Linked DNA regions of Homo sapiens: all the other regions are linked to region 2. Evidence: fine-mapped expression QTL. A gene starts in region 2. Each other region holds a variant in brackets. All regions are shown on one strand. Distances are between the middles of the regions. Region 1 overlaps KIF9 (kinesin family member 9). Region 2 holds the start of SCAP (SREBF chaperone). Region 3 overlaps SCAP (SREBF chaperone).

Evidence for each region. PIP is the estimated chance that this variant, and not a neighbour inherited with it, causes the effect.
Region 1: its variant is fine-mapped to the expression of SCAP in whole blood (TOPMed, PIP 0.98).
Region 3: its variant is fine-mapped to the expression of SCAP in whole blood (INTERVAL, PIP above 0.99).

Annotation. Positions count from the first base shown.
Region 1 is chr3:47,269,079-47,277,253 of GRCh38, forward strand. KIF9 (kinesin family member 9) reads right to left here. Exons shown (of 21, transcript NM_182902.4): 3 at 6,247-6,412; 4 at 4,474-4,580; 5 at 2,159-2,383. Among named protein-coding and RNA genes, the nearest start is that of KIF9, 9.6 kb to the right of the region's middle. The variant A/G (reference allele first, on the strand shown) is at 3,928.
Region 2 is chr3:47,472,685-47,480,859 of GRCh38, forward strand. SCAP (SREBF chaperone) reads right to left here and starts at 3,257. Exons shown (of 23, transcript NM_012235.4): 1 at 3,115-3,257. It overlaps LOC105377073 (a long non-coding RNA gene), which reads left to right and starts at 3,261. Exons shown (of 3, transcript XR_940821.3): 1 at 3,261-3,680; 2 at 3,958-4,018. RefSeq lists a silencer at 2,805-3,344.
Region 3 is chr3:47,418,212-47,426,386 of GRCh38, forward strand. SCAP (SREBF chaperone) reads right to left here. Exons shown (of 23, transcript NM_012235.4): 7 at 7,786-7,958; 8 at 7,274-7,400; 9 at 5,722-5,834; 10 at 4,231-4,325; 11 at 2,720-2,818; 12 at 2,343-2,561; 13 at 1,117-1,493; 14 at 444-632; 15 at 110-311; 16 at 1-38. Among named protein-coding and RNA genes, the nearest start is that of PTPN23-DT, 41 kb to the left of the region's middle. RefSeq lists an enhancer at 3,301-3,350. The variant T/C (reference allele first, on the strand shown) is at 3,866.

The sequences.
Region 1 (8,175 bases), 200 kb before region 2:
TTGTCTTTCTGGCCCTTTAAAAAAGATCCTGCTATTGACGTTGAGGAAGTAAGTTGCTATGTTGTGAGAAGGCACTATGATCATGCCTGTGAATAGCCATTGCACATGTGCCCATTGCCTGGGCAACACAGCGAGAACTTGCATAAAAAAATAAAGAGTTCCTAGCCTATATGACTTCTAAAAGAATAACATACACTTGACTGATTTCTTTTCTTGTTTTTGAGACAGAGTGTTGCTCTATTACCCAGGTTGGAGTGCAGTGGCATGATCTCAGCTTACTGAAACCTCTACCTGCTGGGCTCAAGTGATTCTCCCACCTCAGCTTCCCAAGCAGCTGGGACCACAGGCATGCGCCCCCATGCCTGGCTAATTTTTGTATTTTTGGTAGAGGTGGGGTTTCACTGTGTTGCCCAGGCTGGTCTTGAACTCATGAGCTCAAGTGATCCACCCGCCTTGGCCTCCCAAAGTGCTGGAATTACAGGCGTGAGCCACTGTGCCAGTGCATTTGACTGGTTTCTAAGAGCCTTTATTTTATTTTTTTGAGATGGAGTCTTACTCTATTGCCCAGGCTGGAGTGCAATGGCTTAATCTCAGCTCACTGCAGCCTCTGCCTCCTGGGTTCAAGCAATTCTCCTGCCTCAGCCCCCCGAGTAGCTGGGATTACAGGTGCCCACCACCACTCCCAGCTAATTTTTTTTTTTTTTTTTTTTTTTTTTGAGATGGAGTCTCCCTCTGTCGCCAGGCTGGAGTGCAGTGGCACAATCTCAGCTCACTGCAACCTCTGCCTCCCGGGTTCAAGCTATTCTCCTGCCTAAGCCTCCTGAGTAGTTGGGAGTTAGCGCCACCACATCCAGCTAATTTTTGTATTTGTAGTAGAGACGGGGTTTCACCATGTTGGCCAGGATGGTCTCAATCTCCTGATCTTGTGATCCGCCTGCCTCCGCCTCCCAAAGTGTTGGGATTACAGGCATGAGCCACCGTGCCCAGCCTAATTTTTGTATTGTTAGTGGAGATGAGGTTTCACCATGTTGGCTAAGCTGGTCTCGAACTCCTGACCTCAGGTGATCCACCCACCTCAGCCTCTCAAAGTGCTGGGATTACAGGCATGAGCCACCGCACCTGGCTCTAAGAGCTTTTGTATAGTAAGGATGCTAATTCTTATTTTTCTCTTTTTCTTTTCTTTTTTTTTTTTGAGAAGGAGTTTTGCTCTTGTTGCCCAGGTTGGAGTGCAATGGTACGATCTTGGCTCACTGCAACCAGTGCCTCCCGGGTTCAAGTGATTCTCCTGCCTCAGCCTCCCTAGTAGCTGGGATTACAGGCACCCGCCACCACACCCAGCTTATTTTTTGTATTTTTAGTAGAGATGGGGTTTCACTATGTTGGCCAGGCTGGTCTCAAACTCCTGATCTCAGGTGATCCACCCACCTCAGCCTCCCAAAGTGCTAGGATTACAGGCATCACCCACTGCACCCGGCCTTATTTTTTTCCATACAAGAGCTCATAATTTAACTGAAAAAAGGGACATAAGAATCATTTCAACTATGTAAAGAAAAAGCTGCACAGGAAAAAAGACTGGAAGGAAATGAGCTAAAATATACATTATTGTTGCCTTATGTAAAAAACAGATTATGCATGAATCATTTTTTCTTTTTATTTACGTAACAGGAAAGGAAGAGGAAATAAAATTCTTTTTTGTTCCTTTTTTTTTTCAGCACTATCTGAACTTGCTAAATGTGCATATATTAATTTCCATTCTGATAATCAAAGTAAGTAAAAAACTAGCTGGACACAGTAGCTTGCCTGTAATCCCTGCACTTTGAGAGGCCGAAGTGGGAAGATCGCTTGAGCCCAAGAGTTCAAGACCAGCCTGGGCAACATGGCCAGACCTTGTCTCTACAAAAAAAAAAAAAAAAAAATTAAGTGGGCATGGTAGCATGCTCCTGTGGTCCCAGCTACTTGGGAGGCTGAGGCAGGAGGATCACTTGAGCCCAGGAGGTCGAGGCTGCAGTGAGCCATGTTCATGCCAGTATACTCCAGACTTGGAGAAAAACCAAGATCCTGTCTCAAAAAAAGAAAAAGAAAAAGAAAAAGAAAAGCTGAGAAGGAGGGTGGCAGGGAGGGAGAGAAGGAAAGGAACCCTCAGGTTTTATTATCTCACCTCAAAAAGGAGGCTGAATGCATCCTCCTCCTGACTTGTGAGGTGAACTGACAAGCCCTTAATGAAGACTCCTTGAGGGTTTTCCACGATGGTCATTGGTGTGACTGAGGGTCCAACATAGGGCAGAGTGGACAGGAGATCAAACAGGCTCTCATTATAGATTTCCAAGTAGGAAACACGCACAGTGATGGCATGTGTGGGGCGTTCTTCGATCATCCTAAAAACCTAGATGACAGATTGTACAGCGGTCACCAAGAGCAGAACCCCAACAGCCAACTAGCATAAGGGGGGCTTCCTAACTCAGAAGGGAACATCAAGATGTATAGAATAATTATTGTCCTAAAGGAATTGGGTGATATTTAGTATCATCTTGTAGTGTTTTGAGGCTTGACATCAGATTGGCTAACACTTAAACCATCTCACGAAGTAGAGGCATAATGAGTGGAAAGGACTCTGGAGTGAGGATTTCTTATTTTAGAGTCTCATCATTTATATGCCTCTTTCAAATCTATTTAATTCCATCCACATATAAATCTCTGTGAATGAGGCAGTGCAGGAGCAATACGTATTTGTGGAAGGCACTACAAAATAAAATTATTTGTCAGCCGGGTGTGGTGGCTCACACCTGTGAGCCCAGCACTTTGGAAGGCGGAGGTGGGCAGATCATGAGGTCAGGAGATCGAGACCATCCTGGCCAACATGGTGAAACCCTGTCTCTACTAAAATTACACAAATTAGCTGGGCGTGGTGGCGTGCGCCTGTAGTCCCAGCGACTCGGGAGGCTGAGGCAGGAGAATCTCTTGAACCCAGGACGCAGAGCTTGCAGTGAGATGAGATCACGCCACTGCACTCCAGCCTGGGTGACAGTGAGACTCCATCTAAAAAATAAATAAATAAATAAATAAATAATTTGTCTATTGGTCACTCAGCTAGTAAGGGTAGAAGTAAAGCCAGAACTCAGCCTTCTCAACTCCTAATTCCCTCCCCAGTGCTTATCAAGGAAGGGATAATTCCTGAGGTCCTGCCTTCCTCTAAGAATTTAGACCGGTTTTGTTCAAAATAGTAGACACAAGTTACAGATGGCTGCTGAGTATCTAAAATGTGGCTAGTACAAATGAACTGAATTTTAAATTTTATGTAATTTTAATTACAGTTAGATTTAAAAACTGATGCAATTCAGTTATTGGTAAACTTTAAGTATGTCTGGAACAACTTGGGTATGTAAATCTACTTTTTCAACATTTTATGAAATCTAAATACAGATCAAGCATTTCTGATAATATTTATGCCTAAACTGAAATGTGCCCCAAGTATAAAATATGTACTGGATTTCAAAGACTTAGTATGAGAAAAAGAATGTAAACTATCTCAATAAGTTTATATTGATTACATGCGGAAATATTTTAAATATATTTAGTTAAATAAAATATATCATTAAAATTAATTTCATCTGTTTATTTTTACTTTTTAAAATGTGGTTACTGGAAAACTCAAATTTGCATGTGACTTACAGTATATTTCTATTAGTGGCACTGGGCTAGATTACTAAAGTCTAAGATGCTGAGATACTGAAGCTTTGACAGTGGGATATTAAGGGTATTGCTCCAAAAACAGGAGCATGGATGGTTCACATACTAGAGGAATGTATACACTTCTTATAGGACAGGGCTGCAAAAAATCCTGTCCTATAACACTTCTTATAGGACAGGGCTGTAAAGCTGCCTCTTGGCAGCTTTTGCCTCCTACCTCCGACCAGAGGGTCCTTACAG[A/G]ACCCAGGCTAGTGGGGCCCAAAGGAAGGCCCTTCTGTCTTATCTTCAGTTATGCTATTGAGACCCCCCGGGCTGACACAGTCCTGAAAGCTCAAGTCATGCCCTCCTTCTTGCTTTTGATCTTTCAGGGGCTGTGGTGGTGAAAAAAGCCAGAGTAGGCCAGTAAGGAAGTTCTGCAAGGGTCTATATGCCCCTCATTAAAACCAGGAAAGAGAATGATTAGGACCTCCAAATCCTTAATTACAGGATCACAGACCACTGGAGCAGCAAGAGGCTGATTAGCATGCCTGACTCCCTCCTTCCCAAATGAGGAAACAGGCTCAGTGTGGGTATGGCTCAGAGTCTGACACCCAACCTCCTGGTTTCCTGAGGCCCCTGACTCTACTGACTCCAGAGCCCTGTGTATGTTGTCTCCAGTACCAGTATCCACTGCAACTCCTTTGAGGCCTGGTCCCCACTGTCTCTAGTAGCTGGCCCAGGGTCAGTAACATCTATGGCAGAGAGAGGGAACCTGTGTGGCATCCCACCCTTGGGCCCACTCTCTACCTGCTGCAGGGCACGAGGGAGGATCCCCCGGTGCTTGTAATTCTCAGTTGCCCCCATCATGGTGTATGTCTTGCCAGCTCCCGTCTGCCCATAACACATGATGGTGCCTGCAAACATTTCAAAACACGGTGACATCCAGGAAAATAGCTCCAAGGATAACTCTCCCCTCTCCCAGCATGCCTGGTGCCAGCCAGGGCCCTTTGCATGAAGATGGCCAGTGGGGGCAGCCAAGAACATCAGGAATTCCACCATGGAAGAGGATGGGTGGGCAGGGGAACAGGGACAAAAGTGGTCAAAACAAGGACATCTGCCCTGAATCTGTGGTCCCCACAATGCTCTGCTGTTCCCTCCACCAAGAGATGATCCGGCCCTAGGGCTTCTGAGAAGGACAGGGAATCTCAGGGTACAGAGGAACTGGAACTTTTCCTAAAAAGATGAGGAGGGAGATAGGAGCATTAGACTCCAGCCCTTCTCTAGCACAGCTATGAACTGCCAGGGTCTCAGGGTTGGCAGGAGGCATCAACTTCCCCACAGAGGCAAAGAGGGGCTTTCAAAATCTCCAGGAAGAGATGGAGTGGAAAGGGCATTTTCTGTCAAGGGTGAGAATTCTTTGTAGACTACAAATTCCTGCAGGATGAAACAGGGCTCCTAGTTGGTTCCATGTCACTTCCAGAAATGTACCACCATGATCAGGCCCTGATCTGGTCCACTGCCCACCCTGGGAAGACTTTCATTGCACTTCTCAACATCCTTTAGGTCTACCATCACCACCAGGCTCCGGGACACAAACCATGCAGTCACCCTGAGCTCCGGCTCCTATCTGTTCTTCCCCTTAGCATGGGCAGCCTGAGCCAGACCCCATCCCACAGGCTGCCCATGGGCATTTACATGGCAGATCTGCCCAGGCAATGCTGGGCTGTGAAAATTTTTTGCCTTTGTCACACAGACACTCTAGTTCTTGGGACTGGTGGCAGGTTTTACACAAGCGATCCTGATTCAGCATCTGAGTTGGAGCCAGAAATGGTGTCTATTAACCCAACACAAATGAACAGGAAGGAGTCACTTCAGCTGCAAATCAGAGCCCATTTGTGGTTCCACAGCACCAGTGCTCAAGACTATTCATCTCCCTGGGCCTTAGTTCCTCTGTCTTCACCTCCTCAAGGTCACAATCAGAGCATCATGAAAACCAAAAGAGAACCTCCTTAAGTCAGTGGGGACCACACCTACGTATCACATTCAGGATAAATTACAGCATCTACACTCAATGCACTTTTAAATATAAAACCTAAACTTGCAAAACAGGGAACATCCTAGTCAGCAGCCACCAGATGGCAAAGTCTACAAACTGTGACATATTCTTTTATACAATCCTATACTAGAATATCAACTGTACATTGATTGTGTTGGTAGAATACATGAAAATAGCTCCTAGCAGGAAGCTGAGAGACAAATGTTTGGACTCCATCAAATTTGTCATAAAGACGTATCTTCAAAACTAATACTTGAGAGATTTGAAACAGGATAATTGAACCCCTGTGACCTATAGAGAGCCATAGTCTTTTAATTTTCCTATGAAGGTAGAATCCCAGGACATTGGATCAAGCCATGCCCACAATGTCAACAAGCAAACAGTAAGTTTTGCAACGTAAGAACATGGAGACAGACAAACATACAAATGATAGTGAGTGAGCTTTTATTTTATTCACCATAAAATATTTGCATCTCTTACTCCTCAGGTTCTTACATAAGACAACATTTAATTAATTAAGTTACCATTATAGCCATCGAGGGCCTGAGAAACCACATCCTTTGCAACTGTCTCATAAACCAAGTCCTGGGAGGCATCGTGAAGAACTCCATCCAACTTAAACGACCAGTCTGTCTGTTGGTTATTGACAACTCCTCTCCGAATGTCTTTTTTTAAGTGAATATCAATGCTCTAGGAAAAAAGAGTGAGAAAGAAAAAAATGTTATTTGTTCAAAAATGGGTATAAAAAAAATCACTGATAGCTGAGGCCTAATCTGGAGGGAACAGAGGAAATGAACTGTAGGATGAATGGGGACTCCCACGTAGGGGCTGATATTCCAGATGAATTCTTTGGGATGGGAGAAGAGAGTTCCTGCAGGGAGATGGAAAGATCAGGAGAGTGGAGCACTTTCTAGTTTTAGCACCTCTAACCCTAGTTCACACGGTGCTGTCTTTGTTTCCCCACCTATGATATGAGGTCAAATTTATCATGTTCTTATTAAACAAGTTTTAGATAGATTCCATAAGCATAGGGAGGCCTTGAATTATGCCAGAGGGAATAGTGAGCCTGGTAACAGAGGCCTGGGCTCCAGCCTCATTGCTCTGGTTGCTGGCAGTGAGGCCTCCCTCAGCTCTGCATTATGGTGAACATCTACTTCCACACACACGCTATGAGCCAAAGTGAGTGATGATGAAATGAAAGCCACAGAGAAGGCTATGGACTTCTCAGACATAGGAATTAAGAGTAAATTGAGGGTGTCATCAGCAGATTTTTAGATGCATGCCCCTTCATAGTAAGCCATTGTAGTAGCAGCTGGCTTAGGGACATACTGGGTAAGGTCAGTGGTAGATTCCAATCTTCTTGATGAGAACTTCTGATGTAAAGACTCTTGCTGAAATCTTACACTGACTGCCCTAATGCAGGAGCTATACCTGGCTACAGAGAGAAAAATTAAGATGAAGAAAGACAGACTTGGCCGGGCATGGTGGCTCACGCCTGTAATCCCAGCACTTTGGGAGGCCGTGGCAGGTAGATCACCTGAGGTCAGGAGTTCCAGACCAGCCTGGCCAACATGGCAAAACCCCGTCTCTACTAAAAATACAAAAATTAGCCAGGCATGGTGGCACGTGCCTGTAATCCCAGCTACTAGCAGGGCTGAGGCAGGACGATCGCTTGAACCTGGGAGGCGGAGGTTGCAGTGAGCCAAGATTGTGCCACTGTACTCCAGCCTGGGCAACAGAGTGGGACTCTGTCTCAAAAAAAAAAAAAAAAAAAGAAAAGAAAGAAAGAAAGACTTGGTCCACTCACACATTAAATGCTCTGTGCTTCTGTGTTCGCTGAAAACCATGTCCAGCAGGACACATTTGATAGGGCTGCATGTGAGCTCTTTTCTGACCGCTAGGACCTGCGAGGCTTGGGCAGTTTGCCCTTGAATTTTTCCTTTGAAGAATGTCTCAATGCTGCCCAGAGTAGGCCCATAATTGTTTGCTGAATGAAAATATCTAACACTCTTACACTGTCCTAAGCCTTCAGAAGCATTCTCAGGGTGAGGATATAGGGACGGATATATCTTTCCACTTCTCTTGATAAGTATTTCTCCAGCTGTTTTGATAAGCTAAACAGTAATGAACTCAAGATATTCTTACTGCACCCCATGGGCGATTATACAATGACAGATCAATCATTAGAAAGCTTTATGAATGTGAACAAATGTCAATTCTTCTGTGTCAGATACGAGGGTAAAGGTAAACTTATTAATTTATTAAAGGTAAAATTATTAAAAGACAATTAACGATGGGATTTTATTAATTTCTTCATTAGCAGTGTGTGAGGGGGTGGTTTGGATTTGATGGGCTCTAGAGTCCATTGGATCCTGTCCAATTCTGTCTTGGTCCTTCAAAGGTTGCTTGGAAATACGGTCACACTATAGCAAGGTGGGACAGAGAGGCCCAGT
Region 2 (8,175 bases):
CTTGCTGAGTTCCACCATCCCCACACTAGAGTCAGTGACGCTGGCTTCCTCCCACCACCCCTACCACCTTCTTCCACTACCCTTACCTGCCAATGAGCAACAGAAAAGACTGTGGGCTGCGTGCAGTGGCTCACGCCTGTAATCCCAGCACTTTGGGAGGCCGAGGCGGGCGGATCACCTGAGATCGGGAGTCTGAGACCAGCCTGACCAATAGGGAGAAACCTCGCCTCTACTAAAAATACAAAATTAGCCAGGCGTGGTAGTGCATGCCTGTAATCCCAGCTACTCAGGAGGCTGAGGCAGGAGAATCGCTTGAACCTGGGAGGCGGAGGTTGCAGTGAGCTGAGATCACGCCATTGCACTCCAGCCTGGGCAAGAAGAGCGAAACTCCATCTCAAAAAAAAAAAAAAAAAAACAGACTGTGGAAGCAGGTACAAGAACAGCATAAAAGGATGGACTCTTTTGTCAGCCAAATCTCAGTTTGCACACAACACACTCCGTCTCAAATTCGCTAGGTGACCCAGGGCCAGTCAAATAACTTTTCTAAAACTCTCCGTAAAGGGGGTGATAACAGTGTTATCTCACCTGGTTATTATGAAAACTAAGTGAGATAAGCTAATATTACAGTACCTAGGACACTGCCTAAACAGCACAAGTGCTCGATATCACCCAGAATTATTACTCTGAGTGGCAAAAGACGACACCTGAACCTTGTTTCTTTAGCCAACTCAGTAAGGTAGCAAGTTCTAACGGAAGGAGCTCAGGTGGCAGAGGTGTGGCAGACCTGGTTTGAAGGATGATCCACCCTTGACAAGCTGGGTGACCTTGTAAGAACCCAGCTTCTCTATGAGGAGTCCTCTCATCTGTTCAACGGGGGTGATGACACAAACTGTATATGAAGTACCTGTCAGAGCCGGTAAAACACTGGCAACCACCAATGGTGAGAGTAAGCAAACAGCACATGAACCTGTCATTCCAGGATCCCTGAGGCACATTCACATGCATGGCTAGATTCTGAGAGAGAAAACATCCCTAAAGTCTACCACCAAATGTTAATATACATACCTGCAGTGAAGCCCACAGGCACACTTTTTCTTTCCTTTTTTAGTTTATTTAATTCCTGAATCGCATATGCCTCCATTTTTCTAGTAATAAACTTGTAGTAAACTTTTTACCCACCTAATGACAGTGACTGAGGGAACGGGGGAAGGGCCCCAAACCAGTGATTATAAAGTCCACGGAGATCTCTAGAGAGGGGGCGTTTTTGCCGCAACAGCAAAAGAAAAGAGAGAGCATTCAAGCCAGGCGCGGTGGCTCACGCCTGTAATCCCAGCACTTTGGGAGGCCGAAGCGGACGGATCATGAGGTCAGGAGATAGAGACGATCCTGGCTAACACGGTGAAACCCCGTCTCTACTAAAAATACAAAAAAGTAGCCGGGCATGGTGGCGGGCGCCTGTAGTCCCAGCTACTTGGGAGGCTGAGGCAGGAGAATCGCTTGAACCCGGCAGGCGGAGGGTGCAGTGAGCCGAGATGGCGCCACTGCACTCCAGCCTGGGCGACAGAGCGAGACTCCATCTCAAAAAAAAAAAGAAAGAAAGAAAAGAGAGAGCATTCAAACATCAGATCAGTTCATAATAAATTTAAAAAGCCTAATTCTTTCCATTTCAATTTATGACCAAAAGAATAAATATGGAAATATATTTATACAGTGTTAAATATATTTATATAGTGTTTTTTACATCATGTGCTCAGTGGGAATACTGCAAATGTGTAAAACACCTAAAATGTAAACTATATTAACACACATTTTAAAAGATACAGGTCTTGGCCGGGCACGGTGGTTCACGCCTGTAATACCAACACTTTGGGAGGCCAAGGCTTGTATAATGCTTGAGCCCAGGAGTTAAAGACCAGCCTGGGCAACACAGCAAGACCCCCATCTCTACAAAAAAATACAAAAATTAGCCGGGCGTGGTGGCACACACCTGCTGTCCCAGCTACTGGGGAGGCTGAGGTGGGAGGATCACCTGAGCCCAGGAAATCAAGGCTGCAGTGAGCCGAGATCGCGCCACTGCACTCCAGCCTGGGAGACAGAGTGAGACCCTGTCTCCAAACAAACAAACAAAAAACAAGTCTTTAGGCATCACTGAGGAACACCTAAAATGGATACAGCACTAACTAGACACCCTCGACCCTGACTCCCTAATAAAAGCGTCAGTCTTTTGCTCAATATCCTGACCTGACAGCAAACCAATAAAGACACGGCATAACCAAACTCCACAAATTTTTGGCCAAATAAAAGAAACACACGCAACGCTAACATTAAACCTTTTCTATGGCCGCTTCACGATAAGTATTACAAAATCCCCAGAAAGAGTTTATTCACCTAGCTCCGACTGTCGCCATACAAGGTGGAGCAGTGAGTGACCCGAACCAGGGGCTGACCCCTGCCAGAGCCCCCACAGCGACTCACTGCCCCCCCCTCCGCATTCCCATCTGCACAACTTTCTGTGATTCAAACAGTCCGGAGCCAGGGCTCCCTGCAACTAACGCTATCGTGACATTATAAGCCGGTTAAATACTGAGGTCATAAACCCACTCAGAAGTAAACAGAAGCAACATTAGTGAGCAAAGTTGAGGTTTAAGCAATACGGAAAACTAGAAACCAAGCAAAACCAGCAAAGCAACTAGCGTTGTCTCTCAATAAGATCTTCCAAAAGAGGCAAAGTGGAGAACCTGCTCTCCCCCGCACTCCGGAAAACCCAAACAGCACCAAAGCAGGTTCTACAACAGCTTCCCGGAGCAACTAGGCCAGGGGATGCGACGCCGCGCATCTCCCCCCGTCACACCAGGGGCCCGCGGAGGTCTGGTGGGGACGCGGAGCTCCAGGGGCCGGCCGGTGCAGGGACACGGCCGGGTTGGGGGTGGGGACGCGCGGCCCTGCCTCCTTGCCGGCCTGCGGTCTCCAGGGCCGGCCCGCACGGCTGCTGGACAGCGCCATGCCCACGCACCCCCGAACCTAGCGGCCCCCATTCCGGAACTCCCAGCTCCACGCGGCTGGGGTCGAGCTGGGGCCCGCGGGCAGGCGCCCTGAGCACCCGCGTGACGGTACCTGTGGTGGCAGCACCTCCCAAGCTGCGGCGGCGGCGGCGGCGGCGACGGGGGCGGCAGCAGGGGCGGAGCGCGGCGTGCGCGCTCTCGGCCCGCAGTCCGGTGCGTGGCGCCCTCCCTCTCTCTCCTGGCCGCCGGGTGCCCGCCCCTTCACCTCTCACCTCCTACCTTTACCCTCCCGCCCCGCCGCCCTCCGCACGTGCGCCCAGCGGCGTGCGCATGCGTAGTCGAACCACATTCGCGTCTCCCGTTCGCCCTCTGGTGGACACCGGAGGGAAGTATGGACGGCCGGGCCGGGCCGGGCCGGGCGGAGCGTGAAGCCGGGTTAGGGCCCGCCGGGTTTGGGCCCACCGGCTCTCATCGGTCATCAAGAACTTGCAGAAAGCCGGGCACGGTGGCTCGCGGTTGTAATCCCAACACTGTGGGAGTCCAAGGCGCGAAGATCGCTTGAGCCGAGGAGTTAGAGACCAACTTGGGCAACGTAGGAGACCTCCGTCTCCACAAGTAAAATTAATTAGCCGGCTGTGGTGGCGCGCACCTGTGGTCCCAGCTACTCAGGAGGCTGAGGTAGGAGGATCACCTGAGCCCGGGAGGTCGAGGCCACAGTGAGACAAAAAACAAAAAACCCACCCTGCACAAGATGCTCATGTTCCCTGTTTTATAATGGCAAAAAATTAGAAGCAGCTGGGCCGAGATACACTGCAAATGCAGATGAGAAGAATAAATAATGTCCATAAAACTAGTTTCCCTATAGACATTTAAAAGCATAAGTTGACATTTAACCATTTTCCACAGGGAACAGGTATTTGTTATAATAGCAACAGCTACGTTCACTGTTTACTAGGTGTCAGTTGCGGAGCTGGTATTGTACATGTCCTCGCATTTGGCCCTCCTGAAAATCCGAGGTAGGTCTTGTTACAGGGCCTCACAGAAGGGGAAGGGGAGGCTGCCTCCCCTCGAGGGAAACACAGGTCCCCACCTGCCCAGCTCTGGCCCAACTAGAGACGCTGCCCGGACCACTCTGGGGGGACTTTGATCATGCTACTGCATGCCCTTGCTGTACCCAGGTCTTGTGTCAGAGGTAAGCCTCCCCTCAGCCCCTGCCTACTGCCCGAGACACCCGCACCCACCCCAGGGCTACCTGGATAAGGCAGGCCCTGTACCTGCCCTCAAAGGCACCAGCAAACTTCTCTGGGAGTTCCAGAAAGTGCAGATCTAGTCACCAATGCAAGGCAGAAATTAGAGGTGGCCCTTCTGACCGCACCAGCCCCCGACCCACTACACATTCTTCAGATACCTCCTCCTAAAACCCAGTTCCCACCGGACTCTGGCCTCCCTCCTTGCCCACCACACTATTGTCACAATGAAAGTAACAATGGGGACAGTGGGCCTTGGCCCAAAGTGACTTTCAGGGTTATGACATTTTCAGCATTGTCTTTTGGCTTAATATGGGAATTTTGATCCTATAAAGAAAGTATTCGCTGGGCGCGGTGGCTCACGCCTGTAATCCCAGCACTTTGGGAGGCCAACACGGGCAGATCATGAGGTCAGGAGATCGAAACCATCCTGGCTAACACGGTGGAACCCCATCTCTACTAAAAATACAAAACAAACAAAAAAAAAATTAGCCGGGCGTGGTGGCAGGTGCCTGTAGTCCCAGCTACTCGGGAGGCTGAAGCAGGAGAATGGCATGAACCCGGGGGGCAGAGCTTGCAGTGAGCCGAGATCATGCCACTGCACTCCAGCTTGGGCGACAGAGCGAGACTCCGTCTCAAAAAAAAAAAGAAAAAAAAAAAGAAAGAAAGAATTTTTTAGGTTATTTTTATTTTTACATTTGAGGTCTCACTCCTTTACCCAGGCTGGAGTGCAGTGGTGTGGTCATAGCTCACTGCAGCCTCAACCTCCTGGGCTCAAGTGATCCTCCCAAGAAGGTAGGACTACAGATGAGCGCCACCATGCCATTTTTGTTTTTGTTATTTTTATCAAGATGGGGTCTTTTGCTGTGTTGCCCAGGCTGGTCTCAAACTCCTGGGCTCAAGCAGCCTTCCCATGTTGGCCTCCCAAACTGCTAGGATTACAGGCATGAGCCACCGTGCCCATCCTGTTTGTTGTATTAAATGAGAGAGAAGCAACAATAGAGAGCATTCAGGGGAACTTACCTACACCCCTTACCTATCCTGACATCACTCTCTCCAGGTCTGATCCCTTGAAATACCATCATTTGTCCCCTCAGAAACCTTGGGCATGAAGGAGTCCTCCTGAGCCCTGGGCCCACTGTACCAAAGTCTTCTCTCCAGAGAGGGTCAGGAGCCTGTCTTTTAACCACCTCCATGGCAGGACTTAGCCAGACTGCCTTGGGAACTGCTGTCATTCTCCTCACTCACCACCTCTTCCCACCCAACCACTCCATCAAAGCTGTGTTTGCAGAGGACTGACCCTCAGTGAAGTCTGGACACTCCCCCACAAAAAATAAGAGGCTCCAAAACTGACAAGCACCTAGCTAAGTACCTTTGTGCCTTGAAGCATGGCAAACAATCCTCCACTGCCCTAAGAGAACCCACTGAGAATCCTGTGGAGCCTCTGGGGAAGCTGGGGTTTATGGGGCCCTGGTAAATCTGCTACAGAATGCCCCCCATGGAATATAATGAAGTGGACATGATTTTTGGGCTTCTCCCACAACATTTTTTTTTTTTGAGACACAGTCTCATTCTGTTGTCCAGGCTGGAGTGCAGTGGTGAGGTGTTGGCTCACAGCAACCTCCCCCTCCCAGGTTCAAGTGATTCTCCCACCTCAGCCTCCTGAGTAGCTGGGATTATAGGTGTGCGCCACCATGCCTGGCTAATTTTTTTTTGCATTTTTAGTAGAGACAGAGTTTCGCCATGTTGGCCAGGCTGTCTCAAACTCCTGATCTCAGGTGGGATCCACCCGCCTCAGCCTCTCAAAGTGCTGGGATTACGGGCGTGAGCCACCTCACCTGGCCCTTTTTTTTTTTTTTTTGAGACCAAGTCTCTGTCACCCAGGCTGGAGCACAGTGGCACAATCTTGGCTCACTGCAACCTCCACCTCTCAGGTTCCAGCGATTCCCGTGCCTCAACCTCTTGAGTAGCTGGGACTACAGGCTTGCGCCATCGCGCCAGGTTTATTTTTGTATTTTTAGTAGAGACGAGGTTTTTGCCATGTTGCCCAGGCTGGTCTCGAACTCCTGGGCCCAATCGATCCACCCGCTGTAATCCCGGGATTACAGGTATGACCCACCATGCCCAGCCTCCTACAACATTTAATATGAAAACATAACAGAAAAGTTGAAAGAACCATAGAGTGAACACTCATATACCCTAGATTCAACTATTAATGTTTTGCTTAGTATCTCATGTCTATCTAAAAAAATCTATCCTTTTATTCATCTATCTGTAATTGCCCAAGGGTTCTTCTTGCCCACTGCGCAGACAAAATCAATTCACTGAGGCCTTGGCATTGCAGTAAAGAGTTTCACTGACGCAAGGCTGGCGATGCACAAGGCCACGCAGAAGATGGAGCTGTTACTCAAATCAGTCTCCCCAAAGGCTTAGAGGTCAGGGTTTTTCAAGGATAGTTTGGTAGGCAGGGTGCTAGGGAATGGGAAATGTTGATTGGTTGGGGATGCAATCATAGGAGGAGTCCTCAAGCGCTGAGTCAGCCTCTGGGTGGAGTCAGCAGAAATGCAAAAGTCTGAAAAGAAACACCTCAAGGCCGGGCGCGGTGGCTCACGCCTGTAATCCCAGCACTTTGGGAGGCTGAGGCAGGTGGATCACGAGATCAGGAGATCGAGACCTTCCTAGCTAACACGGTGAAACCCCGCCTCTACTAAATATACAAAAAATTAGCCGGGTGTGGTGGCGGGCACCTGTAGTCCCAGCTACTCTGGGGGCTGAGGCAGGAGAATAGCATGAACCCAGGAGGCGGAGCTTGCAGTGAGCCGAGATCATGCCGCTGCACTCTAGCCTGGGCAACAGAACGAGACTCTGTCTCAAAAAAAAAAAAAAAAAAAAAAGAAAGAAAGAAAGAAAGAAAGAAAAGAAACATCTCAAAAGGCAAGTCTTAGGTTCTACAATAGTGATGTTATCTATAGGAGTAACTGAGGAAGTTACAAATCTTGTGACTTCCAGAGCAATGACTGGTTATCATTTAACTACACCTACACCTTAGCAGAATTCAGGCCCCTCCTATAAAAATCCTAGACTTGTGGCTTTTCATTAGTTTTACAAAGGCGGTTTAGTTTTGGAGAGGGCTAATGTCATCCTTGCTTTAAGGTTGAACTATAAATTCCTCCCAAAGTTACCTTCGCCTATCCCCAGGTTGGAGGTTAGAAGCAAGATAGAGCTGGGCACGGTGGTTCACTCCTGTAATCCCAGCATTTTGGGAGGCCGAGGCAGGCAGATCACCTGAGCAGGAGTTCGAGACCAGCCTGACCAACATGGAGAAACCCTGTCTCTACTAAAAATACAAAATTAGCCAGGTGTGGTGGCGCATGCCTGTAATCCCAGCTACTCAGGAGACTGAGGCAGGAGAATAGCTTGAACCTGGGAGGCAGAAGTTGTGGTGAGCCGAGATCGTGCCATTGCACTCCAGCCTGGGCAACAAGAGCAACACGCTGAGAGAAAAAAAAGAAAAAGAAAAGGAAGCAACATGGAGTCAACCATGTCAGGTTTTTCTTACTGCCATAATTTTGCAAAGGTGATTTCGTATCAATCCTTTATTTTAAGAGATAGGGTATTGCTCTATGGTCCAGGCTGGAATGCGGTGGCACAATCACAGCTCACTGCAGCCTTGACCTCCTGGGCTCAAGCAAGCTTCCCAAGTAGCTGGGACCACAGGTGGGTATGACCACTCCCAGCTAAATTTCAGAGTTTTTTAAATAGAGATGAGGGTCTCTCTGTTGCCCAGGCTGGTCTTGAACTCTTGGCCTCAGGCAACTCTCCCATCTTGGCCTCCACAAGTGCTAGGATTATAGGTGTGAGCCACCATACCCAGCCCCTATCTTATTTTTGATGCACTTCCAGTTAAGTTGCAGAAACCTGATTTT
Region 3 (8,175 bases), 54 kb before region 2:
ACCAGCAGCATGCCGTCGCTGGCCAGGCACTCGATGTCCTGCAGAAGCCCGGTGTTGGTATGGGCCAGGCTCCGGCCCTCCCCTACCCGGCCACTGTGCCCCTGCTCACCATGAGGTGGCCGCGCAGCACAAGCGGCACGATCTCCGTCTCGGGTGGCGCATAGCCGTAGTCGTCGCAGGGCAGCTCCCCGCGCCTCCGCCGCCCGGGCCCACCACCCAGCTGCCCGTAGTTGCGCGGGCATAGCACGCGGTAGAGGCAGAGCAGCAGCAGCACCAAGACGATGCCGGTGGCCAGGCCCAGCGCCGCCACCCTGCACGGGAGGGCGGACTGCTGTGAGACACACCTCACAGCCTGTCCCCTCCCCTCCTCCCTCTCCCCTACTCTTGCCTACCCGTCCCCCTCCCCGCACTCTTTCCCACCCCACCCCACCCAGCAGCCTTACTTGTACAGCGTGACGTCTCCATGGGCCTGCACCCCACCTGGGCCCTTGGGTCCTGCTTCCCAGTGCCCAGCAGGTATGGGCCCCGGTGGGGGCCAGGCACTGCGGCCGTCCTGAGGGTGCCGGCCCTCCAGAGCCTCCCTCGGGTTCAGGCGGAGCGTGACTGGGATGACGGGCAGCAGGCTGATGTACCTGGATTCGGACAGTGGGCAGCCTCAGCGGGGGGCCTCCCAGGGCTTCCTCCTGCTGTGCTCGCCAGCCAGTCCTCTCCCTCCTCCCCAGGCAGGCCTCAGCTCCACCGGCCAGACTCTCCCAGCATGGGGGGTTGGGGACAGAGGTAGGTCCCTCCCCAGCCCAGCTTAGCAGCCAACTTGCTGTCCCAGATACCAGCACCCAAACAGCCCTGGTGGCCGTGTGGGGTATCTCCCTCCCCACTCCTGGCACAGGTGGGTGGGTCTCATTCTGGTGAGGGCTGGCAGCCACCAGTGACTCCTCAGAGCAACCTGGGACTCCTCTCTTGGGTTATAGCTGCCTAAACCACCAGTTCCCACCTCACAACCTTATGAACTGTTTTAATTATTTGCATAATTCAAACCTGTGGGCCTCCTGCATTGGGGAAAGGGGATGGTGAGTTGACACCATCGAGTGAGGTGGCACCTGGCACGGCCCAGCTCACCTCTTGGCCAGTGTGATGTTGTAATAGCTGAAGAGCGTCGGCCAGTGGCGGAAGGACAATTTCCTCCAAAGTTCCTCATCCTCAGGCCCCCAGGTTACCTCTGGGACTGGGCTGTCATGGACAACCTCTGCTGGACCTCCACGCTCAGGTGACTCGCCTGGCGACGTCTGGTTCTCAGGTAGCTTAGGGGCATCAGGTGGGAAGATGGAGAAGGCAGGGTCCGGGTGGCTGGGGGGCAGCATGCCACTAGGCACGGGCATGGGAGCCAGGGCTCCCTCACCCAATGGGCTCTGTTCCGTCACCTGGGCAGCGAGGTAGTTGCGCAGCCCTGCTGGGTCTGTGTATACCAGGATGCCAATCCAGACAACGGTGCCAGCCTGCAGTGGGGCAGGGGGTACTCAGTGGGAGGAATGGGCCCCAACCCCCAGCAGCTTCAGCCCTCATGCTGAGAGGAAGCAGCACAGGGACCTCAGGCCTGGGGATGGAGAGAGGACACAGGCCCCACTGCGTCCTTTTCTCCTGCCTCTCCAAGTCCTCCTGCTAACACCTGCCAACACTTGCTGCTGGAGGGGCCTGCTTGCCTTTCCACAGTTAGGGGCTGAGTTTCTTGGCCTGGAAATACACTGAAGCACCCTGAGGTTTGACACAGAATGTCCCCACCCCTAAGCTCCACCTCAGCTGGAGCCAGAAAGCTGCTACCATTCCTACGGTCAGAGGGCCAGCAACCTGACCTGCTCCAGAGTCCCCCAGAGGTCCTAGTCCCAGGGGGCCTCAGCCTTCCTCCCATCTCAGTTCAGCTCCCTGGAAGAGGCACTGCTGCCCCAAGGCCAGCCCAGCCCGGCTGGTGAATGATTTTGCCCAGCACTTTCCAGTGTCTGCACACCATGCAGCGGCCGATGAACCCGACCCAGGGCAATGTGGTGGCCACAAGTGGGTCCATCCCAGAGCACTCAACTAACAGGCTCCTGTCCTGGGCCACTCTGGGGAGAGGATGGCTCCTGTACCTGAGAACCCTGGAGCTGCTTCTCCCACAGGCTTATCTCCTCAGAAGCCACTAGGGTCTGGGCAGGGAGGACACAACGGGCAACTCCCCAGAGCCAGGCTTCCAGGGGCCACCAGGGCCTGAGGAATACCCTTTGCCACTCTAAGGCCAAGTGCAGCACCACAAGGGGCCTGGAGCACCGGCCCTCCAGAAGAGGGCAGGGCAGGGCAGGGGTGGCAGGTACCATGATGAGGCGCTGTGCCAGGCGGGTGCGGGCCAGGAAGTAGACAACACGCAGCCTCTTGGGGAGCCGCAGGTTTCGGAAGGAAGACGGCTGCAACGTGATGGTGTGGGGTGTGGACGGCCTCACAGCCAGCTGCCGCTCGTAGCGCGTTGGCTGTCCCACTGGCTTGGCTGAGGGCAGGCAGGCCTCAGGGGGCAGTCGCTTGTTCAGGTCTGCTAGCTGTTGGGGGCACAGTGGTCAGGGCCTGAGTCCACCATCCAGAGGCTGCTCGCACAGGACCGCTGTCCTGCCCGAGGTCTACACCCTTCTCACCCAGGACTCCCTCAGTACAGCCAGGGCTGAGGAGGCGGGCAGGGCAGGGCTCAGCCCACTCCTACCTCCATCCGGCGAATGTCAATGGACAGGACAGTGGTGAAAAACAGCATCTGAAGGAAGAAGTCAGACACCAGCCCCACGACAGCAAAGAGACAGAACTCCTGGAATCAGAGCACATGGGGATGGGGGGGTGCCGTGACCTCACTGTCCCAGCCCAAGAGGAGCAGTACCCGGACTGCAGCCACCTCATAACCGGCAGGGCAGCAGCAGGCAGGGCACAGCAGAGATGAGAGATGCTGGTTGGTCCTCAGCTCACATACCAGCAGCAGCTCACCCCGTCTCCACCAGGGGGCAGAAGAAACCCTCACACTTTCTTCAGAAAGGGCTGAAAGGGAAGGGGAAGTACCTTCCCTGAATCTTCCGGTCCCTCTAGAGGGGACTGAAGGCCTGATCCAACCCGGAAACCTCTAAGCCCCACCAGCCTGCTCCCCAAAAAGTCCTTCCCCACTGAGCCCCCGCCCTGCTCATGCATCACCAACCCAGCTAGAGCCCAGGCCTGATTCAGGGGCTCTCAGAAAGGTTCCCAGCCAGCAACTGCCCCGGAACAATGAAGAGAGAGAGAGAGGGATTAATTCTCTAAAACTGAAAAAGGGTGAGCTCTCTGCTCCCCAAGCTCTGTCAGCAGACAAAATTTTCTGAGATGTCGGTGTTGAGACCTCTAGCACATCACCACAGTGCTACTCCGATCTGGGGTAAGACCATGGAGTGCAGATAGTGGCACAGTGGTTGTCTCAGCTCTAACGTCCCAAGACTGTACCCTATCCTGCAGATACTACTGTTTTTCCAGGAGAAGCAGCCCACAGCCCATCTGTTCTCTGCTCACCCCCATCCCTCAGCTGGCCTGCCAGCCCTGGGGGAAAGACGGGCGAGAAAAGATGGCATCCTCCCCTTCCTGCAACTCCTTCTGGAATGGCTGGCATCAGTCTGGGGTTCCAGCTCAGTGCAGGGCCACCTCCACCTCTGCTCACAGCCCACAGCTGAGTGAGGGCACTTTGCCAAGAGCAGGGTCACTCTGGGCAATGGGTGGTGGCCCTCCCACTGGTCAGGCCAGGCAAGGCCATGCGTCTGGCGACTGCGGCACAGGCCAGGGCCAAGGGAGGAGACCGGAGGAAGGGTCTAGGAACCCCACGGTGCTTCTCCCTCAAAAA[T/C]GGGAAACAGGTGTGACAAACTGCACAGCCAGTCCCCAGCTCCTGCCATGCCCTTGCAGCCTCCTCCTGCCACTTGGCTGAAAGGGAAGCAGGCAGGGAGGGGTAGGAAGACAGGGTCAAGGGCAGAGTCTGCCTGGCTAGGTGCTCAATCTGGGAACCCAGCCAGGGTTTGCTGAGCACTTCTGAGCCAGGCATGCCAGGGGCCATCTGGGTGCTGTAGTGATCTGCTTGCCAGGCAAAGAGGTCCCACCTCAGAAGCAAGGATGCCTGTGCTGAAGAGGGGAGCACCCTGCCCATGGCTGCACAGCTGGGGAGCACAGCAGTTGCTTCCATGCTCATCCAGGTGGCAGGCCTTGGGGCCTTACCTGGATGGCGGGCACTAGGGTGAAGTAGCCGATGAGGATGATGCCCAGCTCCGTGGCCATGTTCTTCATGATGGACCAGCTCTCGCTGCTTAGGCCTGCAGAGGGCAGCAACAGGGCACAGGGCAACACATGGCCACTCTGCGACATGACTCACACAACCTCATGGGCCTCGGAGTGGCAGAGGCATGGCAAGGCCCCCCAGCCCTTTGAAGGAGCCATTCCACCAAAGCACCCCAACCCTCAGGGTCCTGCTAATGCCCAGACTTTAAGGGGCCATCACCACCACACAGCTGCTACGGGGAACGGGTGTTCACAGCCTGGAGGGTGCAGAGGAGAGCTATAATCATCAAAAGAGGGAAGAAGCAGAGTGTGGAGATGAGAAAATCCACAAGGAAAGCCAAGTGCCACCCACAACAACCACATCCAACCTCCGCATGTGGTTCTTGTCTGGTCTGCACGGGCCAGCATGACAGTGTGCCCATCAACCACATGGCAGAAGCACTCGGCGGGTAGAGGACCTGGCTGCGTTCTTCCTCAAGCCCCTTCCTGTAGTGAGCCCTGATCCCACGCTATCACACTGTCGCATGTCTAAGGCTCTGTGCTCTTACTGGGTAAGGACAATTTCGCCCCATCTCTTCCTAACTCCATATCCAGCACAGGGCCTGGCTTATCACAGAGGCTCACAGAGGTCTGGATGAATGGACGGCTGCCTACAGCCCCATTCCTCACAGACATGGGGTGACGAGGAAGAAGAGGCTCAAGTGACCAGGCCTCCAAGGCCAGGCTCTCCCTTTTCTCATTTTCCCTAGAACCCCAGATCCCCAGTTTCTACCAGCAGGGCCAGAGGGAGCTTTTCTGGCAGCCGTGAAGGCAGCGTCTCTGAAATGGCCAGCCCCCGGGGCTTGGGCCTAGTGTGCTGGAGTGAGGCAGTAAGAGAAAATACTAGGCGCTAAACTCCCCAGACAGAAAGCCACCACCAAACACAAGCCCCACCCACACTGAAGTGCAGTGGTGTGATCACGGCTCACTGCAGCTTTGACCTCCCAGGCTCAAGCAATCCTCCCACCTCAGCCTCTTGAGTAGGTGGGACCACAGGTGCATGCCAATATGCCCTGCTAATTTTTCTATCTTTTGTAGACATGGGGTTTCACCATGTTGCCCAGGCTGGTCTTGAACTCCTGGGCTCAAGTGATCCACCTGCCTCAGCCTCCCAAAGTGCTGGGATTACAGGTGTGAGCCATGGCACCCAGCCTGGTTTACTTTCTTACTGACACATGAACCAGGACGAAGTACAGTCCAATGGCCCCATGGCTCCCCAGGGCACACACTCAAGAGCTGCCAGGGCCCAGTGGCCCACTGCATATTATGCCGGAGGCAAGAGCAAGGGACATTTCAAGGGCTCTGTTTGCTCACAGAGCGTTAACAGCAAGAGGAACAGGCCCCATTCCAGCCCCTCCTGCAGCCCTCTGCCCAACTCTCCCACTGCGTTACCTTGGGCGATCCGCAGCTTCACCTCCAGGTCTACCGGGGTTGAGACCACAGACTTGGTGAGCACCAACACATTCTCTAACCCAATAACCACCACAAGGTAGGGGAAAATCTCGCTGGGGACAGAGAAGGAGAAGGTGAGGACAGTGTTGTGGTGGTTCCCAACAGACTGGGGCCCTCAGGAAGGCTGTGGGGTTTCCAGCCTGTCATGGGGGCTGCTGAGTGACTCCCACAGGTGCTGGGCAGAAACCCTCCCTTGTCCACCTCACCCAACAAGACCTGCATCTACACAGCACTCAGCTTTCAGGCAGGCTCCAGAGCCTTGCAGAGGGGCCAGCAGCCATCCTGTCTCTAGCCATCCAGCACAGGAGGGCTGGAAGAGGCCCCTCAGGGAGAGCTGTGCAGCGCCACTGCTAGACCACACTTCTGCTGGCCCTTCCCAGGAGAAGACTGCTGGCTAAAGACAATGACTGCTGCCAAGACCCACACCAGTAACTCTGGGTGGACCCATCACAGCTAAATGCAAGGAGATGAAACCATCCTGAAGGCCCACTCACCTTTGTTGAGAAGCTGTGTGTGGAGAAGAACGACTGTTCCTACACAAAGCTCTACCAGCTATCTGAGCCCACTGTCCCACACTCCCCGCAGCAAACCCTAAGAAAGTCTATGTGCGAGGAACGCCAGCCAAGTTATACCTTGCAGGACCTCTGCTTTGGAGCCGAAGGAAGGGAGGGCCCTGTGAAGGGTATGGCAGACGGTATGGGGGAGGGTGGTGTTTAACAGTGTCAAGCTCAGGAAAGGGAGCAGGTATCTAAGAGCAACGAAACTACCAGAAACAAAATACGACGTCGCTTTTCATACGACCAGCCTGATGGGCCAAAGTGGTGGACAGGCCAATCCATAATCCATTAATAACCATTAATAGACAGGCAGGCGGGCCTAGCCAGAGCCAAGATCAAAGCCTGAGGACAAGCCGAGGGAAGGGCTTCCAGACTAAGGTTCAGAGAGGAGTGGCAAGGGGAAAGTAAACATCAGTGAAAAAGGCGACAAATTACAGTGTGCTCATATCTTCCAAAGAGCTTCCTCTAAAATGACCTATTTCATTAGGCATTTAAATGTTCTAATCATGAAAAAAAAAATGTTCTCTTCTCTATCTCACACCTCCAGTGGCTTAAGCCATCAAGCTGCAGTGTGTGTGTGGTGTGTGTATATAGAATACATAAACACAGACACACAAATCCGACTACACACATGCAATACATACTCATGTATACACAAACATACCAACACACACCCCTTATATACACACCCAGCCCACAAATATGCACTTTTGTACATATGGACACTCACTATAGCTAGATATGCTATATACAAACACAAGTATGAATACAAGCCAGACAAAGAAGAGGAAGAAAATGTACCTCTTAAATGTCAAAAACAACAATGTGAAGACGTGAGGTCACAGCAAAGTCCAGGGAAGGCCAAGAACCCAGAAGTGCAAGGCTCTCTGGCCTGAGCCCACCCTGTGGCCCAGTGGAGCCTGCTAGGGACCTACCCGCCATTGAGGGTGGGCGTCAGGCCGAAGAGTGTGCAGAGTCCCACAGACATGAGCAGCGAGCTGAGCACTGTGACCACGGCAGCCAGGGCCAGCCCCCACTTGGACTTGACCATGTCGATCTTCCCTGGAGGGCAGAGAGGGCGTATCAGGGCGGCCCCTCCCCCAGCCCCCGGCCCACTGGGGCTCCCGGGAGTAGGTTGCCCTGACAGTCGAGGAAGGGAAAACTCCTGGTTTCACCAAAGGAAAGGGACAGGCACAAGCACTTCCCAGTGTCATGGACACAGTACACCTTTTAGGAACCCTAACCCAGGAAGGGGCTGAAAGTGGGAAGAGCCCCGGCCCCACCCAAGCTCCTAAGACCCTGCTGGGGGACAAAGCCCTAGCTCTGATGACCACCAGGTGTGTTCTATCTCTCTACCCCAAGCCACCTCCAGAGCCAGGGAAGCAGGTGACATGGAAATGCCCGTTTAGCTTGGAGAAAGCCCTCAGCCTCCCTGCCATGAACCTACGCGTGGAGAAGTAGATGTAGGCAAACAAGATGATGTAGGTGGTCACAAGGGGGATGAGCTCAGCGACACCAATCTCCTCCTTGAAGTGCACGTGGACCAGGCTCTCCGCCCGAAGGCTGCAGTTGGGGCTGGGGTGCAGAAGCATCAGGCGGGCACGCAGGCTGCCCAGGAACCTGGTCAAGGAGCAGGGTGGGGGTAAATGGAAGTGTTGCTCTTGGTTCTGGGGACAAAGACAATCCCCGGACAGAGGGTCCATCAGGACCTCCCTCCTGCCCCTGTGTTGAAAGGGAACTTCTCTATGGTGCCTGAGCTTCTCTATAGTCTCCAGGGGCACTGGGAAAATCACAAAGGGGACAAAGTTTTCTCAGGAGCTCCCCCTGCTCCTTTCTT